Linked DNA regions of Homo sapiens. The protein of the gene in region 1 interacts with the protein of each later gene in a pairwise test. Each region holds a gene or a part of one and is shown in the gene's direction. Other genes may lie near its edges.

Region 1 (7,108 bases):
GGGTGATACCACCTGGGCGTTCATCCTTTGGCCCTGGGACCCTGTGTCAGTTGTCTCTCTTCTCCCCACAGCAAGGCACGTACTACACACAGCCGCTGTATGCAGCACCTCCTCACGTCATCCACCACACCACGGTGGTGCAGCCCAACGGCATGCCTGCAACGGTGTACCCTGCTCCCATCCCCCCTCCTAGAGGCAACGGGGTCACCATGGGCATGGTGGCTGGGACCACCATGGCCATGTCAGCAGGTAAGTCCTCGTTCCTGCGGTGTCTGTCCTATGGTGTACCCTAGAGCTGGGGGAGGGGAGAGCTCACGAATCCTCTGACCCTTGGCTCTAGGTTTTCATAGCTGTAGTTGTGTGGAAGGACAGAAAATTCTTTGGGGAAGAAACAGCAGGTTATCTTTTATTTTGCCTACCTGAGTGACCCCTTGTGGAGGCCTCTCTGAATCTGATGGACTCGCTTTGTTGGTGAACTGAGCCATTTGGCAATGCAGGATGTGCCCCCTCTCCTCCCACCCCCTATGACCATGTAAGACTTGAGTAGAAGGAGGACACTTTGTGTACCGGGGTTGCTCTGGCCTTCTTCCTTTCCCTTGAGGGGAGCTTGTCTTTGCAGGTCAGTTGTCTTCATCGGGATGTTTTCATGCATCTAGGAGAGCTGGTCTTGCGTTGATAGAAGAAACAGCTGCCTGTAGAAATCCTTTGGCATTCATCTACCGTACTTTACTTTGCAAGGCCTCCTCTAAGGAAAATAAACCATGGAAAGATGAGGCCCCTGGCTGGGATGGGCACATCTCCGCGGAAGCCCTGGGGGTTTGATCTGATGTCTAGGGATTGGGTGACCACCCAATCTGTATGACCACCCATGTGGATTCACCTCCTGGTCTCTGGGTCAATATGACCACCTTTAGGTCATGCCCACACAAAAGCGTACTGTTCCCTCCTTGTTTTTCTGGACTTGACTTCAGTGTAAGGAAATTATGCCAGAGAGAAAAGCATTCCGGGTTATTATGTGTGCTTCAATGTAGACTCTGATTTGGTTTTCCCCATACTTATCTGTCAAGGAACAGGAAACTGGGCATAGACAGAAACTGCTGGTTTGAGGCACAGGGAGGGAGGGCAGCAGGCACCAGGTTGGGTGCCACTGTGTTGGAGGTGGTGCTGGTCCATAAAGGGACTCAAGTAGTTGTTGAGTTTCTGCAGTTGTAGGAAAAATAGATTTCTCTTAAAGAACTCAGAAGCTCATGTAGTTTAGAATCCTCATTTCTTTTTTTTTTTTTTAATTTTAAAATTTTTAATATTTTTTTTTAAGACAGGGTCTCATCCTGTCAGCCAAGATGGAGTGCAGTGGTGTGATCTCAGCTTACTGCAACCTCTGCCTCCTAGGTTCAAGTGATTTTCCCACCTCATCCTTCCCAGTAGCTGGGACTACAGGCGCCTGCCACCATGCCTGCCTAATATTTTTTTGTACCTTTTGGTAGAGATGGGATTTCACCATGTTGGCCAGGCTGGTCTCGAACTCCTGACCTCAGGTGATCCACCTGCCTCGGCCTCCCAGAGTGCTGGGCTTACAGGCGTGAGTCACTGTTGCCAGCCTCTTGTTTTTTATTTATTTGTTTTTACCATCTTAACTTTTTTTTGTTGAGACAGGGTCTTGCCCTTTTGCCCAGGCTTGAGTGCAGTGGTGCGATCACAGTTCACTGTAGTCTGGAACTCATGGGCTCAAGCCATCCTCCCACCTTAGCTTCCTGAGTAGCTGGGACTATAAGTATGCTACCACACCTGGCTAATTTTAAAACTTTTTGTAGAGCTGGGATCTCACTATGTTGCCCAGGCGCATCTCAAGCTCCTGAACTTAAGCTATCCTCCCACCCCAGCCTCCCAGAGTGTTGGGATTACAGACATGAGCCCCTGTGCCCAGCCCATCTTAACCCTTTTTAAGTACGGTTCAGTAGTGTTAAGTATATTCACATTGTTGTGAAACAGAGCTCCAGAACGTCTTTATCCTGCAAATCTGAACTCCTGTACTCATTAACGCTAATTCCCTGTTCTACTTTCTTTCTGTCTCTGAATTTGACTACTCCAGGTACTTCATCTAAGTGGAATCATTAAGTATTTGTCTTTTAGTGACTGGCTTCTTTCTTTCAGAATTATGTTCTTAAGGTTCATCTATATTGTAGCATGTGTCAGAATCTCCTTCCTTGTTAAGGCTGAAGCATACTCATTTGTTTATCATCTGACCTATAAAAATTATTGGGTGTGCTTTATGAAGGGGACACACAAAAGGCTTTTACGAACATATTGTCTGTGGAGCTTGCTGTGTGGAGACAACTTTTGGGTGTGGGGGATTATCTAATCAGAGTTCTGACAGTATCTGGGTCAAGACTATCCCTCTTCCTGTATACCCTCCTCCTTGCAAAGAGGCCAGGCTTGTGTGCGTATCAGGCAGTGTGGAGCTGTGCAGGAGGTCAGCCTCATGTCATGTGCTGCTCTTTCTTCCAGGTACCCTGCTGACTGCTCACTCCCCAACTCCTGTCGCCCCCCACCCGGTCACTGTGCCCACGTACCGGGCCCCAGGAACGCCCACTTACAGCTATGTGCCCCCTCAGTGGTGATCACCTGCAAATGTAAGTGACCAGGGAAGGCTGGGCTAGCCTTTGATGAAAGGGCATTTCCATGGGACAGTGGCAAATTTACCACATATTTAAGCACTAACGAGGAAAGTGTGCCTGACCCTGGATCCAGAGGCAATGTAGTGTTTAAATTTTTTGTTTTTATTGAGACATTACAGAGTAGAAGGAAGGAAGGAACCATTGAATACCTACTGTTGACACTGTCCATCTTGAGCCTTGCCTGGAATGTGCTCTAACCCCCCACCTGCCTGCTACAGGAAATAGGGCTCCAGTTGCAATTGGGGGTCTCTAGGAAGGAAGTGAGAACCAGGTCCAGCAGTTTTGCCCATTGCTGCCCTTTCCGACCCTGCTGGGCCTCATCCTACTTGAGATTTTGGAATAGCGGTGCCGGAAGAGCTCTGTGTGACTGAGTGTCTGTCTTCCTTTCTGCAGGTTTGAGGACGGAGCTGTGCAGTCACATTATTGGGGATTCCACAGCTGGTGCTGCAGGCCTTGCGCCTCCAACCAGGACTTTCTTCTTAATGCTCTCGACACTTAGCTAAACACGACTATATCCCGGCCCAGCAGGCCCCAGCGCCGTTAGTCTCCAGCTGACTCTGTGGGTTGGTCTTAAAGCAAATTCTGTTTTGTGGACTGCCTGGCAATTTTTTAGCTAACTGTAATGATAAAAAGGGAGTATTAATCTATTCTGAATCATATCTAGTTGAATGCATGTTTAAAAAAACAAACACAAAAAGCTTGCTCAATCTACCTGCAGTGACTGATGCAAAACCATCATATGCAAAATCCAAAGGAATGGAAACGTATTTTACAACTTGTATCACTAATGCACTGTTGTAATGTATGCAAAGTCTTACAGTTATAAGTGTTAAAGTGAATTTCTTCATAGAGCATCTGAAATATCTTAGATGATTCTTCAACCTTTTGGGGTTGATGTGGGTTGCCAGTTAGGGATGTGGACATTTTAGTTTTCAGCGACCTGTTTCTTTGGCACTGACTGTCCTGGGAGGGAGTTGCGAGGTTTGGGAGAGAGTAGGGAAGCCACAGCTGCTTGGGTGCAGCTGGTTCATGGACATCCCTTTGAGTTTAGGCTTGGTGGAGTCAGTGGAACAGGGACATGCTTAAAGCTCATCATGAAAGATTATGGTAGTGTGGCCAGTGAAATTTGGGGCGAGGGGGGTGGTTTATGTGTCAGCAAAGCAGTTTCTCTGCTATCTAAATTTTCATTACAGTTCTCTTAGAGAGATGATGTTTTTATATGTCTTTATTGGAAAAGTCCTATGTAAAACTAAATTATTTTCCTGGGATGGAAGAAATGTGAAAGAGAAACAGCCATGCTTGCAGGAGGTATTGTCCTCTGCTTTATTTAGCTTAGAAAATCATTCCTTTTTTTTTTTTTTTCCTGGAGAAATGTTTGAATCAGCTGAAAACAGGTAGGCATTGCTGTTTTTCCCCAACAAAGAAGGGCAAAGGTTTCAGCTGTATGTTATGAAGAAAGTGGTATATTTAAGAATGAGTTAAAAGGGAACAAAACTTTATTTAAAATTCCTCCAATTTCTTGTAGAAAGGCAGGGCCGTGGATATGTCTGGAAATGTAGAAACCTGTAGCTGCTTCTGGGATCACCCACCTGATGGTGGTGACTTGTCTGCTGAGGCCGGCTGGAGGGGACGCTTAGAGATGGGGCGAGGGGGAGGCCAGTGTCTGTTGTCTGCGAGCCTCTCCTGCCATCTCTTTTGCAGCTGAGGGCACTTGGCACAAAGCAAGCACAGACAGCAGAGAGGGCCAGGCAGTGCTGGAGTGCGTTTGCTGGCAGGGTTTATTGTGGGAGAGGAATTTGAGTTTAGGATCTGAATCTTGTACATAAGAAATGAAAAGGCTTCCCTCCACCCCGCCCCCAAAATATGCCCGTCCTGTATCCATGAGAGTGCATGTCGGTTCTCAGTGAGGGTCAGAGTGGGGGTGGGGGATGTAAGGCCTGGGTCCCTTTCAGCGGCCTCTAGGGCAGGAGCGTGCGTCTTCTTCCCAGTGCAGTGGTGGTTTGAGTGCTGTGGGCTCTGGTGGGGAGGGGGCTCTGCTCCTCTTCATTTGCTGGTAGCTGGGTCAGGGCACTGGCGCCCAGTGAGGATGCCCACTAGCATTCTGCCCCAGTTGGTTGGTGGGGGGACACCTGACCACTGAGCCTTTGGTAACCTTATTTTTTATAGTAAGTACTTCTTATAATTTTCTTTTTCACATCTTATTTTATAAGAAGTTTAGGAATATTTTTGCATGGATCATTGTAAACAGCAGATTCTTTATTCCTGATGTCTATTAACATAGAATGTTTACTGATAAGTACTTTAAATTGCTTCATGAGCACTTAATCCATCTTAGTGTCTATGTGTGGGGGCAGACATTTACCGCAGGCACACAGTTTGTGCCCCTTTCTTCAAGTCTCTGTTGGTAATTCCATCTGTTTAGTGGATGGTTGGCAGGATTAGTAGGTTCTAACGGTTCCAGGGGTTCAGCTGACCAAGTAGCAGAGAAGTCTTTTTTCCCAATTGAGTGCTAATAGATTAGGATAAAATACTCACAATGTTAGTGTATGCTTTTAAAAAGCCCCACACAACAAAATGGAAACATACATGTACAACTCCTGTGAGGGCTGGAGTCTTGGGGTTCAGGAGGAGGTTAGAAGTTACAGGCATCTCTTCAGGCTTGCTTGGTACTTGGCACACACAGGATGGTGTTTTAAAGAGTGGGCTGCACCCCCCACACGCCATTTACATCAGCTTCATAAACACTTTTCTTCCTCCCTGTAACTTAACCTTTTTTCCCTTTTATGAAGTTGAGAGGCTTTATGAAATAAGTTTGCATTGCACATCCGTGCAGAAATCTTTCTGACTTTGAAATTTTTAGGACGTCAGCTGTCAGATACGAAAGGTAGATATCAGGTAAGAATCTGGACTTAGGAAATAGTCACAAAACTGTCATAGGTTGTAATTTTATCAACATTCGCTTCTAGTAAAATTAAAGTCAATTAAGAAATAGAACTTGGGTCAAAATTCTGTTACAAAGCTTCATAATTTGTCCCGAAGCATATGGTGGAGCATTCTGAGAAATTTGCTTTTTGTGTGTTTGACATTCCTAATTTGGGAGTCCTTCAGCTGAATTACTATTCTTTTAGAAGTTGAGACAGCAGGTAAGCAAAGGACCTAGTTCATGTAAACATGGACATCATGATGGCTATTTAAAAAATATTTGTTCTACACCTTCTCCCCTGAGGCTTGGGGAGTGTGTTCAGCCGCTGCAGTTTCTCTGCTCATGGAGGTCTTGTTTGGATCTGTGCTGGCGGCTGAGCATTTAGTGTGAGCCAGTGACCCATGAACTTGCCGCTCTGTGAGGGCCAGAGTCAGGGCCAGTCATGGTAATGGGCCTGAAGGCACTTCCAGAACCTTTTATGTCTCTCGTGAGCCATCTGTTAAGAACGTTCTTCTTGGTGTGGTTTGTAGGCCTACCTGTCGCTATTCTGGGAAACCTTCTTGAGTGCTATGCAAATGTGTTCACAGGCAATGGGGGTGGTCCTGAGCCTTGGGGTGGGCACCTGGTCAGTGAGTGTCTTGCCCTTCCCCAGCTGGGCATACAGTACCTTGCTCTTTCTGGTGGCATCATCTGGCTGTGATGAATGAGGTCTAGGAAATAATTTGCATGTGTCTTGGGGGACACAACAGTAACGAGAGGAAATACATTATTACAGCAACTTGCGACGTACTAATACCTGTCAGTGTTGGCCCCCGTAAGGTATGTAAGGCACCTGTGAGTGCCAGTGAGTGCTGGTGAAAGGCCAACATGTACTAGTTATGTAAGTATTGGTGTCTGCTTTAAAAAAGGAGACCCAGACTTCACCTGTCCTTTTTAAACATTTGAGAACAGTGTTACTCTGAGCAGTTGGGCCACCTTCACCTTATCCGACAGCTGACTGTTGGATGTGTCCATTGTCGCCAGTTTGGCTGTTGCCCGGACAGGACAGGACCTCCATTGGGCGCAGCAGCAGGTGGCAGGGGTGTGGCTTGAGGTGGGTGGCAGCGTCTGGTCCTCCTCTCTGGTGCTTTCTGAGAGGGTCTCTAAAGCAGAGTGTGGTTGGCCTGGGGGAAGGCAGAGCACGTATTTCTCCCCTCTAGTACCTCTGCATTTGTGAGTGTTCCCTCTGGCTTTCTGAAGGGCAGCAGACTCTTGAGTATACTGCAGAGGACATGCTTTATCAGTAGGTCCTGAGGGCTCCAGGGGCTCAACTGACCAAGTAACACAGAAGTTGGGGTATGTGGCCTATTTGGGTCGGAAACTGCATGTTTCAGAAAGTTTGTCTCTTTTTCCTACTCATTATTTGAAGAAGAGAGAGCCTGTGGGGATAGCCTTATCTTGGTCCACAGGACTGAAGTGAAGTCACTTGGGAAGGGGAGACAGAGGATGAGCGGCGTCTGTGTAGGGACCC
Region 2 (7,108 bases), on another chromosome or scaffold:
GGAAGGCAAAGAGAGGGAGGACATGTAGGGAATATCACCATGTAATCTTTGTGGTAGATTTTGAAGTAATTTTGCCCCAACTATCAAGTATTTAGGAATAGGATCCTTTTTTTACTAACTCAAAGAATCAAATTTATCAGATTAGTTTTTACAATTTTAATGTAAACCACTTATGCTGATATTTCCTGCTGAGTTTACTTGACATTTTTTAAGTTTCTCAAAGATGCTCCTTAAAAATTTTCTTTTGTGACTGGGCACTGTGGCTCATGTCTGTAATCCCAGCACTTTGGGAGGCGGAGGCGGGCGGGTCACGAGGTCGGGAGTTCGAGACTAACCTAACCAACATGGTGAAACCCCGTCTCTACTAAAAATACAAAAATGAGCCTGGTGTGGTGGCGCGTGCCTGTAGTCCCAGCTGCTCCAGAGGCTGAGGCGGTAGAATTGCTTGAACCTGGGAGGTGGAGGTTGCTGTGAGCCATGTGCCATTGGACTTCATCCAGCCTGGATGGAGCAAGACTCCGTCTCAAAAAAAAATTTTTTTTTTAATTTTTATTTTTTTCTACCCTTTTTTTTTTTTGAAGACAGTCTCACTGTTGCCCAAATTGGAGTGCAGTGGTGCAATCTCGGCTCACTTCAAGCTCCGCCTTCTGGGTTCATGCCATTTTCCTGCCTCAGCCTCCCGAGTACCTGGGACTACTGGCGCCTGCCGCCACGCCCGGCTAATTTTTTGTATTTTTATTAGAGACGGGGTTTCACAGTGTTAGCCAGATGGTCTTGATCTCCTAACCTCGTGATCCGCCCGCCTCGGCCTCCCAAAGTGCTGGGATTACAGGGGTGAGCCACGGCGCCCAGCCTTTTTTTACCCGTTTGTAAACAATGTTTGATAAGTTTCCATTTTTTGATAACTAATTTTCATGCTGGACATAGCATAATTGAATTGGAATCCAGTTAACTATTTGGATTTGAAGTATGAAATAGGGCTCACATTAAGGAGTAGAGTAGGTGTTTTATTTAAGACTAGGTAATACTCTTCATTTATTTATTTATTTATTTACAGATGGAGTCTCGCTCTGTCACCCAGGTTGGAGTGCAGTGGTACGATCTTCGCCCACTGCAACCTCTGCCCACCGGGTTCAAGTGATGCTCCTGCCTCAGCCTCCTGAGTAGCTGGGGTTACAGGCGCCTGCCAACACACTTGGCTAATTTTTGTAATTTTAGTAGAGATGGGATTTCACCATGTTGGCCATATTGGTCTTGGAACTCCTGACCTCAGGTGATCCACCTGCCTTGGCCTCCCAAAGTGCTGGGATTACTTGCGTGAGCCACCACACCTGGCTTCTTCTTTTATTTTTATTTTCTTGAGACAGTCTTTCTCTGTCGCCCAGGCTGGAGTGCTGTGGTGCCTTGGCTCACTGTAACCTCTGCCTCCCTGGCTTAAGTGATTCTTGTGCCTCAACTTCCCAAGCAGCTGGGACTACAGGCATGCATCACCACGCCCAGCTAATTTTTTTTTTTTTTCGAGACAGAGTCTTGCTCTCTTGCCCAGGCTGGAGTGCAGTGGCGCTATCTCGGCTCACTGCAAACTCCGCCTCCCAGGTTCACGCCATTCTCCTGCCTCAGCCTCCCGAGTAGCTGGGACTACAGGCGTGTGCTGTCAAGCCTGGCTAATTTTTTGTATTTTTAGTAGAGACAAGGTTTCACCGTGTTAGCCAGGATGGTCTTGATCTCCTGACCTCGTGTGTGATCTGCCCGCCTCGGCCTCCCAAAGTGCTGGGATTACAGGCGTGAGTCACCGCGCCCGGCTAATTTTTTTTTTTTTTTTTTTTTTTGAGGTGGAGTTTCATTCTGTCACCCAGGCCAGAGTGCAGTGGTGTGATCTCTGTTCACTGCAATCTCCGCCTACTGGGTTCAAGCGATTAGCCTGCCACCGTGCTCTGATAATTTTCGTATTTTTTGTAGAGACAGGATTTTGTCATTTTGGCCATGCTGGTTTTGAACTCCTGACCTCAGGTGATCCACCTGCTTCGGCCTCCCAAAGTGCTGAGATTACAGTTGTGGACCACTGTGCCTGGCCTTTTTTTTCCCCCTGAAACATGGAGTATATGTTTAAAAAAAAAAAAAGTTGGAGCCTGGCTCCATGGCTCCTGCGTGTAATTCCAACGCTTTGGGAGGCTGAGGTGGAAGGATTTCTTGAGCAGGAGTTCGAGACCAGCGTGGGCAATATAGTGAGACCCTGTCTCTATAAAAAAAATGTAAAAATTAACTGGGCATGATTGCATGTACCCAGAGTCCCATCTACTTGTGAGGCTGAGGTGGGAGGATTGCTTGAGGCCACAGTGAGCTATGATTGTGCCATTGCACTCCAGCTTGGGTGACAGAGTGAGACCCTATCTCCATAAATAATAGGATCATACTTTGCATACTTGCTGATTTTTATTGAAAAATACAGCATAGTTTGGGTGTGGTGGCTCATGCCTGTAATCCCAGCACTTTGGGAGGCCGAGGCAGGTGAATCACTTGAGCCCAGGAGTTGGAGAGCAGCTTAGACAACGTGGCAAAACCCTGTCTTTACTAAAAATACAAAAATTAGCTGGGCATGGTGTGCTTGTAGTCCCAGCTACTCAGGAGGCTGAGGTTGGAGGATTGCTTAAGCCTGGGTGGTTGAGACTGCAGTGGGCTGTGATTGTGCCACTGCACTTCAGCCTGGGTGACAGACCCTGTCTCAGAAGAAAAACCCAAAAAACAGCATACATACCGTAGATGATATATGAGGCATAAAAACATGTAGAGTTGTCATTGTATAACGTAGAAGGTGGTTGGGGGTAAACACATATGTAGAGTTGTTTTTTTTGGAGACAGGGTCTTGCTTTGTCGCCCAGGATGGAGTGTCTTGGCATGATCATGGCTCACTGCAGCCTCTATCTCCCAGGATTAAGGCATCCTCCCACCTCAGCCTCCTGAGTAGCTTGGACCACAGGGATGCATCACCATGCTCAGCTAATTTTTCTTTTTGTAGAGAGGAGTCTTGCTATGTTGCCCAGGCTGGTCTCTTAGGCTAAAGTGATCCTCCTGCCTTGGCCTACTAAAGTGCTGAGATTACAGGTGTGAGCTTAATGCCTGGCCCCATATGTAAAATTAAAAAAAAAAAGTAAAATGAACAACCAAGAAATAGGACATTACTGCTACCTGGAAGTCTCCTGTGTATGCCAGCTCCCAAGGCATTTCTTTTCGCTTTCCTTGAGGTAACCATTACCCTACATTATAGGTTTACTATTCCTTTGTGTTGTTGTTTTAAAATAGAGACAAGGTCTAGCTATGTTGCCCAGGGTGGTCTTGAACTCCTGGACTCAAGTGATCCTCCTGCTTGGCCTCCCAGAGTCCTGGGATTATAGGTATGAGTCACTCTGCAGGTTCTACTGTTCCTTTTTTTTTTTTTTTTTTTGAGACGGAGTCTTGCACTATCGCCTGGGCTGAAGTGTAGTGGCCCGATCTCAGCTCACTGCAACCTCCACCTCCCAAGTTCAAGCGAATCTCCAGCCTCCATCTCCCGAGTAGCTCGGATTATAGGTGCCCGCCACCACGCCTGGCTAATTTTTTGTATTTTTGGTAGAGATGGGGTTTCACTGTGTTGGCCAGGCTGGTCTCAAACTCCTGACCTCATGATCCGCCCACCTGAGCTCCCAAAGTGCTGGGATTACAGGCATGAGCCACCACCCCAGCCTACTGTTACTTTTTTACAATAATTTTACCTTATATGTATATCCGTAAGCAACATATGGTTTAATAGTGCCCATTTTCAGTCTTATTCTCAATGTAAGAATTGTATGATTCTTCTGATGCTTGATTCTTTCACTCTTACATGCTTGAGATTTATCCATGTTGATTTCTTTTTTTTGAGATAGGGTCTCAGTCTGTTGCTCAGGCTGGAGTGCAGTGGCTCGATCCTGGCTCACTGCAACATTCACCTCCCGGGTTCAAGCGATTCTCCTTCCTCAGCCTCCCAAATAGCTGGGACTACAGGTGCCCGCCACCATGCCTGGCTAATTTTTGTATTTTTTGGTAGAGACGGGGTTTCCTTGTGTTAGCCAGGCTGGTCTCGAACTCCTGACCTCAGGTGATCTGCCTGCTTCGGCCTCCCAAAGTTCTGGTATTACAGGCATGAGCCACTGCACCCAGCCCCCATGTAGATTTCTTTTTTCTTTGTTTTGTTTTATAAGACGGAGTCTTGCTCTTTTGCCCAGGCTGGAATGCCAGTGGCACGATCTCGGCTTCTCAGCTCACTGCAGCCTCTGCCTCCTTGGTTCAAGCAATTCTCCTGCCTCGGCCTCCCGAGTAGCTGGGATTACAGACACCTGCCACCATGCTCAGCTAATTTTTGTATTCTTAGTAGAGACGGGGTTTCACCATGTTGGCCAGGCTGGTCATGGACTCTTGTTTGTTTTTTTTTTTTTTTTTGAGATGGAGTTTGCTCTTGTTGCCCAGGCTAGAGTGCAATGGTGCGATCTTGGCTCACTGCAACCTCTGCCTCCTGGGTTCAAGCAATTCTCCTGCCTCAGCCTCCCAAGTAGCTGGGATTACAGGCAGGCACCACCATGCCTGGCTAATTTTTTTTTTTTTTTTTGCATTTTTAGTAGAGCTGTGGGTTCACTATGTTGGGCAGGCTGGTCTCGAACTCCTGACCTCCAGCGATCTGCCCACCTCGGCCTCCCAAAGTGCCGGGATTACAGGTGTTAGCCATCGTGCCCGGCCCGTTGATTTCTTATAGTAGTATGAGGTTACATTGTAAGGATGTGCCATATGTTGTCTATTTCATTGTTGATGGATATTTGTCTCATTTCCAGTTTTTTGAGATTACCAATTTTACTTGTCCTCATGTGGACATTTGCCACCCTGCCCACAACAAACAAAGTCCATTTTCTCAAGACTACATAACTGAGAGTGGAATTTTTGGTTTGTATGTAGGGTATGTGTAACTTTTACTAAGTAATGCTAAAGTGTTTTCCACATGTTGCACAGTTGTTCTCAGGCTTGTCAGCTGAACCACAGAACACAGAAAGTTGAGTTACTATTTTCTCAAATCTGTCAAGGATGGTACATAATGAATTTCATTCTAGGTGTCTGGAAAAAGTTCAGCTTATACACAGAGTGGATGCCCTAAGAATTGGGAATTCATTCTCAAAGACTGAGTGGTTTAAGAGTTCTACATCCTTGCCAACATTTTATGTTGCCTTTTTAGTTTTAGCCAATTGTAGTGGGATGTTCTAGATATATCTTTCATGAACGCCACATAGCTGGATTTTGCTTTGTTAAGTTAGCAACTTGCTAACTTCTTTTTAATTAATTAGAGTGTATCGCTATGTTGGCTGGGCTGGTCGTGAACTCCTGGGCTCAAGTGATCTTCCCACCTCACCCGCACAAAGTGCTGGGATTGTAGGAGTGAGCCATCAGCTAACCTCTTTAACTAGAGCATGGAGACCATTCATATCTGTTGTAATTACAGATATTTTGGATATATGTCTGCCATTATATTTAGTCTTCTAGTTGGCTGGCCTGTGTGTTTGTTTTCTGTCCCTTTTTTTTTTTTTTTTTTTTTTTTGAGACAGAGTCTCATTCTGTCACCCAGGCTGGAGTGCAATGGCGTGGGCTCGGCTCACTGCAACCTCCGCCTCCCGAGTTTAAGGGATTCTTCTGCCCCAGCCTCCCTAGTAGCTGGGACTACAGGCACGTGCCACCACACCTGGCTAATTTTTTTTTTTTTTTGAGACGGAGTCTAGCCCTTGTCGCCCAGGCTAGTGTGCAATGGCGTGATCTTGGCTCAACGCAACCTCCGCCTCCTGGGTTCAAGTGATTCTCCTGCCTCAGCCTCCCAAGTAGCTGGGATTACAGGCATGTGCCACCATGCCCCCGGCTAATTTTGTACTTTTAGTAGAGTCGGGGTTTCTCCATGTTCATCAGGCTGGTCTTGAACTCCCGACCTCAGGTGATCGCCCGCCTCGGCCTCCCAAAGTGCTGGGATTACAGACGTGAGCCACCGTGTGCGGCTTGTATTTTTTTTTTTTTTTTTTTTTTTTTAGTATTTATTGATCATTCTTGGGTGTTTCTCGCAGAGGGGGATTTGGCAGGGTCATAGGACAATAGTGGAGGGAAGGTCAGCAGATAAACAAGTGAACAAGGGTCTCTGGTTTTCCTAGGCAGAGGTCCCTGCGGCCTTCTGCAGTGTTTGTGTCCCTGGGTACTTGAGATTAGGGAGTGGTGATGACTCTTAACTGCCTTCAAGCATCTGTTTAACAAAGCACATCTTGCACCGCCCTTTATCCATTTAACCCTGAGTGGACACAGCACATGTTTCAGAGAGCACGGGGTTGGGGGTAAGGTTATAGATTAACAGCATCCCAAGGCAGAAGAATTTTTCTTAGTACAGAACAAAATGGAGTCTCCTATGTCTACTTCTTTCTACACAAACACAGCAACAATCTGATTTCTCTATCTTTTCCCCACATTTCCCCCTTTTCTATTCGACAAAACCGCCATCGTCATCATGGCCCGTTCTCAATGAGCAGTTGGGTACACCTCCCAGATGAGGTGGCGGCCGGGCAGAGGGGCTCCTCACTTCCCAGAAGGGGTGGCCGGGCAGAGGCGCCCCCCCCACCTCTCGGACGGGGCGGCGGCCAGGCGGAGGCGCCCCCCAACTCCCCAACGGGGCGGCTGGCCGGGCGGGGGCTGCCCCCCACCTCCCTCCCGGAAGGGGCGGCTGGCTGGGCGGAGGCTGCCCCCCACCTCCCAGACGGGCCGGCTGCCGGGCGGAGACGCTCCTCACTTCCCAGACGGGGTGGCTGCCGGGCGGAGGGGCTCCTCACTTCCCAGACGGGGCGGCTGCTGGGCGGAGGGGCTCCTCACTTCTCAGACGGGTCGGCCGGGCAGAGACGCTCCTCAACTCCCAGACGGGGTCGCGGTCGGGCAGAGGCGCTCCTCACATCCCAGATGGGGTGGCGGGGCAGAGGCGCTCCCCACATCCCAGACGGGGTGGCGGGGCAGAGGCGCTCCCCACATCTCAGACGATGGGCGGCCGGGCAGAGACGCTCCTCACTTCCTAGACGGGATGGCGGCC
Region 3 (7,108 bases), on another chromosome or scaffold:
ATAATTATTCCCCCCCTGCCCGGCGCCCAGACATGCTTGGGAAGCTGGGAGAGCGGTTCGGCTCAACCCCCTTCTCCAGGGCCAGTTCCACCAGGCTGCAGGGGCCGCGCTCTGGGCTTGCAGCTGTAGGGGAAGCACAGTTCGCTTACTTTGTATTTTTCTTGGGAGCTTGTGGGGCATCTTAAACGGGACCGTTCGGCTCAGAATCGCAGTGTTCGCCTACCAATAAACCGGACCAAGCAACATTCCAAAGAATCCCTGAGAATTTCTGCCTCTCCTCCCCTCCCCCTTCCGATGGAAACCTCCCTGGTATTATTTTAAAATCCACTTAACCATCTGAATATTGAGCTTTGATGGCGGGCTTGCTAGCTTTCTTGACTCTTTTTAAACTCGCTGTCTGATACTGGCAATCTTGCCATCCCTTCTCAAACTTGAGCAGTTGTGTTGTCTTGTAATTAGCAAACAGGGAAATTGCTAAAGGCAAATAAATGATTTCCCGGTGAGAAAAGGAAGGCTCCCAATGATCGGTCCCTTTTGTGGGCATTATAGGAATAGACGGCGTCTAGTTATTTTAATTGTGGACATAGCGGGTGGCCTGGTGCTGTGACATCAGATTGAGTCTCAGAACACATTTCTGAACTCAGTAGGCAGTTTTAGTACTTACATGTCAAACACCAGCAGACATCTTTGTGTACACTGCCCCTTCGTCCTTCCTCCCTGTTACCTGGGTTAGATTATGTGCTCCAAAATTAAAGTTATTTATTTAGGCTGGTCAGCAGAGCAGTGGAAATGAGGATGGTAGGCTGTTGTGTGTCATTCCTGACGTCTTCAATCAGAAGGCCAGCTTGCAATCCAGATTTGATACAGCTGCGGGAGGAATGGAGGAATGCATAGGCAAGATAGCGGGCTTCCCATACTCTTCTGAAATCCTTAGTGTTTTATAGGGTGTGTTTTTAATGGCAAGGTGTAAAGACAAATTTCGCTGTATGCTTTATTATTTTCCCTTTGCTCCTTGGTGGCGGTGATTTTTGCTACATTTTCTGTTACTTATGGTGTACCTGTAAGCAGCTGCATCCTTTAAAAAGCAAACTCTCTGGAACCCTGATTTCTGCTTTTTTATTTAAGAATGTAAAGAATTAGAGAGTATCATTAAATCGGCTTATGATGAATAATACATTATCTCAAGAATAATGCTTTAATTGCTGAAGACACCATAAAGCTTGATAGTAATAATTTTATTTTAAAATGACAAAGATTTCTGCATAATATTAATTTAGTCTTTGATTCAGTAATAGGAATGGCTTTTAAAAAGACAGATTCAGATACAAAACTGCATTAAGGAGAGGTCTAGTTAAGTAGATGGGAAGTGTTAGAACTGCAAATATTAGAACTGTGGTAACATTTGTATATTAAAGATAAGAATACTGTAACCTATTAAAGTTGATTGGAAAAAGTAGTTTTACATTTCTTTTTCCCTCCTGGCAAAGTGGAAATAGGAATATGGTGGTTGAAATTCCAGTTAGGTTTGAAATTTCTTTTTAAGGACTTGATTATTCGAGCCCTTGCATCTTCTCTTATCCAAAGTTATTTGCTTTTCAACCGAGCTCTTTGCTACTAGGTTGAACAGATAAATAAGCTGCATCTTGAATTCATTTTTGAACTTGGAATCCAGCATTTAAAGGAAACCGAGAGGGGCCTATTCATTGGGATTTTATTTAGCCGGGCAACTTCTCTTTCTGGCTTGTGAAAAATGGACGTTTTTTCCTCACTGAAACAACATAATCCTTTCTAATACAAAAGATTTAGACCTTGGAGTGTGAAGGGTTAATGGTGGTCCTTCCCAGTTGTCCTCCCACCCCCCCACCTCACCCCTGATTGTTTTGACAACACTTTTCAAAGTGTGACATTCCAAGCCCCTACATAACAATGTAATATTACTGTAATTACACAGGTCATTACATTTTAAATAGAGAACAATAAAATGCTTATCGCCCTGAAAAAGAACAGGTGTTCTTACCCTTCTTTGGTATTTATGCTAATTGTTTTTCATCTCCTTCAGAAATATTTATGGCGAACATGTTTAGATTTCAATCTCAATGCAACCGTATTAATTCCATGCTAATCTTTATAGGTTGGGGTTTAATGTCTGCAGTATGGATTATAGGCTCAACATTCACCCAATAAGTCATATTTTAATGATTATAAATTAAATATGCCAGCGCTTTCCACTTTGTTGATATTGAAACTTTCTGAAATCCCAGAAACAAACTCAGGCATTTGGGAGCCTAACGAGCTTATCTGGAAGACGTGTTTTTGGAAACTTTTGACTGTTTAAGGGAAGGAGCTTTGACTGATGCCCTCTGTGTCTGATTGAGAAAGAGTTTTTTGAGGAAAACAATCCTCGTTCTTGCTAGGAGTTCTTCACCTTGATTTTAATTTTACTGATAGGGATTTCATTTAGAGTCATTGCTGGAAGTTGGTCAGCTTTCTGTTTCTTAGCAAGCTGTGAAAAAGTTACCGGAAGGTTTCCAGGGGCTTGCAGATCAAGAATGCTGTTCTGTTTGCCGTGCTGGATCGCTGCAGTTCTGCACGCCATTGAAAAAAATATTTGCTTTAGAAAACTAGCATTTTAATAGTTGCACCAGAGGCTGTGCTTTTAAAGATTACAGTAGAAGTCTTTCCAGGTTTCGAATGCCTCCTTACATCCCACGAGGTGCCCCTGGCTGTGTGCAAAAAGTGCCTAGATTTCTCGGTGGAGAAATCCTGGTGCAACTTCTCTTACACACGTGCAGTGGGTAAACTAGAAGGTATCTAAGAGGATTTTACATTTTGTCAGATGTTTCACAACAGGCCCCCCTGAATCACATTAAAAATGCACTGTAGAGAAAGGACAGCTGCAAATTTTTGTGTGGACGCGTGTTTCTGGACCATGACTAAAACTCCGAGGACCTTTCCCCCAGCTGTCTGGAAGTTATGTGGAAGTTGGTTTATTGGCAGTTAAGTATGAGACAACCTGGATTTAGCAAATGCTCTCTCCTGCACAGGAAGTAGATGACATTATATTGGGGGAAGGGAGGAGATTTCAGGCAAGGAGTGATTTACCTTTTTTTTTTTTTTTTTTTTTTTAAATGCTGGAGTTGCCAAATAAATAAGCACTTTCCAGGGAAGTAAGTGTAAGCTTTTTAGTCTTGGTGAGTGGCATTAGATAATATCTTTGACTGCATTTATAATTCTTTTGAGGTGACACATTTTAAAGTTTGGAAAAGGAGGCTGAACCAAATTCTTGAGGGTCTTATTTTCAAAGGGGTGTGTGATGTGGGCATCTGAGTTTCTTCTGGGAGTGAATATTGGCAACTATGTAAGTAAATCTTCAACTCTGACTTATAATTGAGCACATTTGTGAAGGAAATGGTTAATTTTACAACCAAAGGCAAACTCGCACCTCGACAGGTCTGCTGAAAGAAATGTGCCCCAGTCTTTTTGCTGGCAAGCGCACCACCAGGTCATAAATCCACAGGCTTTATTTACAGCCCATAACACTTATGAATGTTAAGATATTTGACGCCACGTTGGCCTTATAATATTCAAGGTCCGCAGACATTGGCAGTAGCTCAGATTTCTCTCACTAATTATAAGCAATGAGATGGGGGGAGGTGGTGGTATCCTAATGCAAATGCTGCCCTCCCTTCTCCGCTGACCCCCACCTCTACAATCTTGAGTTTACTGAGACAGACGCCACCACTCCTTTGGCAGCTGACTTGTACGTTTCCTCTAGGCTATTGTTATACACATTTATAAAGAGCACTTTCAGGAATGGAAATTCAGTGGGGGCTCTGCACAGATGCCTTTTTCAAAAGCAAAGTTGCTCTAGGTGTTTGCATCTTTTCCCTTTTCTTTTCTCCCTTTTTCCTTTCTTTCTCTTTTCTTAATTCCCCCCAACACCCCCACCTTTTTTTTTTTTTTTTTTTTTTTTTTGAGATTACATTGCCTATATTGTGCATTTTCCCCAGGAATACTTAAAGAAACCTGGTATGGGAGACGGCTCTTTAATTTATATGATGTTCCCCTGAGTGGAAGGGAAAATGTACACATTACATAGTACACTAGTTAAACTAGTTAACGTGAGAGTTTTTAAAAAAGTGAGATGAGGTGAAGAGAGTTGACTAAAAGAATATAATAGGTGAGGGGAAAAAAAATCCAGGTTTACACTGGGGATGGGAGGGCTGCTTATTTGTGAAAAATGTACTGGTATCTGCGGGAGGAGGCACAGAAAAGTAGCCAGAGGAGACAGAATAAATGCCTAAGAAAGATAAGAAAAGTATAATACAAGAGAACAAAGATTTGGGTTTGGGGGAATTGAAATTGGAGATTGGAAGTTTCCTTATGGAGGGGCGTGGGAGTACCCTGGGCTGGGCTATTAAAAAGGGATATTGCTTTGCTCAGCAAAGATGGGCTGCGATCCCTTCATTACCCAGGGTGTTCTACCTAGCCACAGATGTGTTTCCTATCAGTTACTGTGTAAGCATCTGAGGGTGAGGCATTATCTGTGGTGGAGACTGGAGTGTGAGAGAGAAGGCCAGTTGTCCTGCTGATTTTAATTTATGTTGAAAAAGTGGGCTGTTCTGGTGTATTACAAACTGACTACGCGGTATAAGGAGGAAGTGAGATTCAAAGGTGTTTGCCAGGCCAGGAGAGATGATGGCTCTCATTTCTGACTGGATCCTTCCTTCCATCCAACCCAAACTTAAAGACCCAGGCCGAAAGGTTTTCTTTTCTAATCAATGGCATGCAGAAACTTACTAGCCCTCAGGGATAGATATGAATCCCTAAACAGCTCATTACAAAGAAGGGGCTGTGGGATCTTTGAACGGGTTATCAGCCGAGGTGTTCTTTGCTTTTCCCAAGATAGGTTTTTTCTCCTTAGGCACATCTGATTTCGGGCTAGTAATTCGACCTGTTATATTTTATTCTTTTTGTCATGCAGTAGCCCCAACCAGGTCGGTCTACGGAGGAAGGAATGGCCAGGAGTGGCATCAGCCCTGAAGGAGTTAAAATTGCTCCCTAAAGTTTGGCATCATGAAAATAAATTTGAGGCCTGGTAGGCATTAGCAGGGCACAGCACATTTACAGAGCTTAATTAGTACGCACTGTAATTGTTCATGGTCTGCCAGAAGAAGTAATGTTCAGGAAAAGTGGAGTCCCTCTCTTGCAGTCTTCAGCTTGAAACCGATAAATCACTTGCATATTTGTGTAGTGATTCAAATGGAGCTAAGACCTCTCCCATCCCAACATGTGGTAAATTGTAAAGTCAATGAATTGCAGATGTAGGCTACAGTGAGATTCTCTAAGAAAATGCAGAATGAATGGGAAAGAGTGACGCTATAAATATTTACTGAGAAGATAACTAGATTCCTTCGTGCTGGGCCAATTATGATGTACTAAAATATATTAGTAAAATGCTTAAAAAATTGAGAGGATTTGTGTGGGTCTTTGGGTGGGTTGGTTTGTTTTGGAAAGTGAAATAAAAGGCACTATGTTGTTGTCGTGTCAGTTTTATTAAGCCTGAATCACAATGGCATACCCAGGGAAGGACACATGAAACCCACATTAATGCAAATTAATTCGTTATGAGTTGCAGCACTGCGACTGCTAAGTGGAGTAATGATGGGGCATCATTTTAAGAGTTTTAGTGTAGCAACTTTTAATGAAAAATGCTGTGTTAGGAACATGTCTCAGCACTTCAGCCCACGTGTTTTTCTATATGCTAGAAATATGTTTTGTACAAGAGCAGGAAACTTGATTCACTTTATTTTTTCCCCCAGACAGTTTAAGAGCTTTAATTATGTTTTGACGTTGAAAGAAAATCATCTAGTTTTTCTCAAAAATCAACCCAGAAATGCCCATCACCATAAAGAAGTTCAAGCTCAACTTTTTTTTTTTGCGAGACTTTGCAGCACAAAGTGGAGAAACGATGAACATAGCATTTCCCCGCAGACCTACAGATAAAACTTTCTTGAAGCGACTTTTTCCCCTTTTTTTCTTCTTAGAGAATTTTGGTCTCAGGCAATGTTGCAAGTCAATACTTCTTTCCCCAAATGTGAGTAGGTGGATACGTATAGAAGCTGTAAAAGTTAATGATCGTTCTCTGACTCATAGCTGATGGTTTCAGGTTGAGGAAAAGAAAAATTAATGAGGGTAAATAGACATTTGATGGAACATTGAGACAGTAGGAGAGATTGTTCTTGTGTCTAAAGGCATGCATTTTGTTGCAGCAGAATTTCTGAGGCAGAATGCCAGGAAGTGAAAGGGGATGCTGTCGTTAAGTTATTGTTTAGGGATGGTACAAATGTTCAGTGTCTAGATCTCTGCAGGAATGTTTAAGCTCAAGTACCAGGCAATGCTGGTTTTGCCTTTTCTCTTGAAGTCAGAGGCCCCCCTTGGTACTTTTTATAAGGGCAGGCAGTCACCCAAAGTCTTGGTCAAAAGTTTATTTCCCATTAAATGTAAAAGGCTCTCAACACAGGACTGGGGGCAGTGGGGTAGGGGAAGCTGGGCTTATAATGGCCTGTGGTTGCTCAAATGACTAATGACCTAAGAAAAGGTCTTAGGTATACTAAAAAAAAGTATTTTGTTTCTTAAGGTAATTACATGGAAATTAGATTTCAAGTGGCTCATGGTAGCAGCTACAGGGTAGAGAGGAAAGTGGACCAAAAAAACTAACACCTCCTAGGAAATGATCTGTTTTTTTTTTTAATATAGATAAGAGAAAGCCAGGTGATTCATAAAACTGAAAATAAAGTAAATGTTCCACCTCTTCCCAATTTAGCAGGACGAATAGGCATCAAAAATTAATGTGCATCATGTTAGAAGTTAGCTTAGTGCTGGAAAAACCAACAGAGGATTTCAATTGTTTTAATTGTCTTTGAGGAGGAGATTCCTGTGGTTGAAAAAAGCTGTTTCCCATTCCATGTCTGGGTATCTCTGATGTTTTGCATATCAGAAACATCAAATTTAGAGCCCAGTAGTGATTAGAAATAAGATGAAGAATCTAGATATGATGATAATAAGGGAAGGGGTTAATCTTAAAATGTTGGTCTTTACATTGCTG

The links.
Region 2: the proteins of FAM168B (region 1) and UBAP2 interact in binary tests that used the Homo sapiens proteins (3 or more experiments, as listed by UniProt).
Region 3: the proteins of FAM168B (region 1) and TCF7L2 interact in binary tests that used the Homo sapiens proteins (3 or more experiments, as listed by UniProt).

What each region holds. Positions count from the first base shown.
Region 1 is NC_000002.12:131,048,413-131,055,520, reverse strand, and holds part of FAM168B (myelin-associated neurite-outgrowth inhibitor), read left to right. Parts: intron 1-71; coding exon 72-249; intron 250-2,505; coding exon 2,506-2,618; 3' UTR 2,619-2,630; intron 2,631-3,068; 3' UTR 3,069-7,108. UniProt on the Homo sapiens protein: Inhibitor of neuronal axonal outgrowth. Acts as a negative regulator of CDC42 and STAT3 and a positive regulator of STMN2. Positive regulator of CDC27.
Region 2 is NC_000009.12:34,038,812-34,045,919, reverse strand, and holds part of UBAP2 (ubiquitin-associated protein 2), read left to right. Parts: intron 1-7,108. UniProt on the Homo sapiens protein: Recruits the ubiquitination machinery to RNA polymerase II for polyubiquitination, removal and degradation, when the transcription-coupled nucleotide excision repair (TC-NER) machinery fails to resolve DNA damage. May promote the degradation of ANXA2.
Region 3 is NC_000010.11:112,953,242-112,960,349, forward strand, and holds part of TCF7L2 (transcription factor 7-like 2), read left to right. Parts: intron 1-7,108. UniProt on the Homo sapiens protein: Participates in the Wnt signaling pathway and modulates MYC expression by binding to its promoter in a sequence-specific manner. Acts as a repressor in the absence of CTNNB1, and as activator in its presence.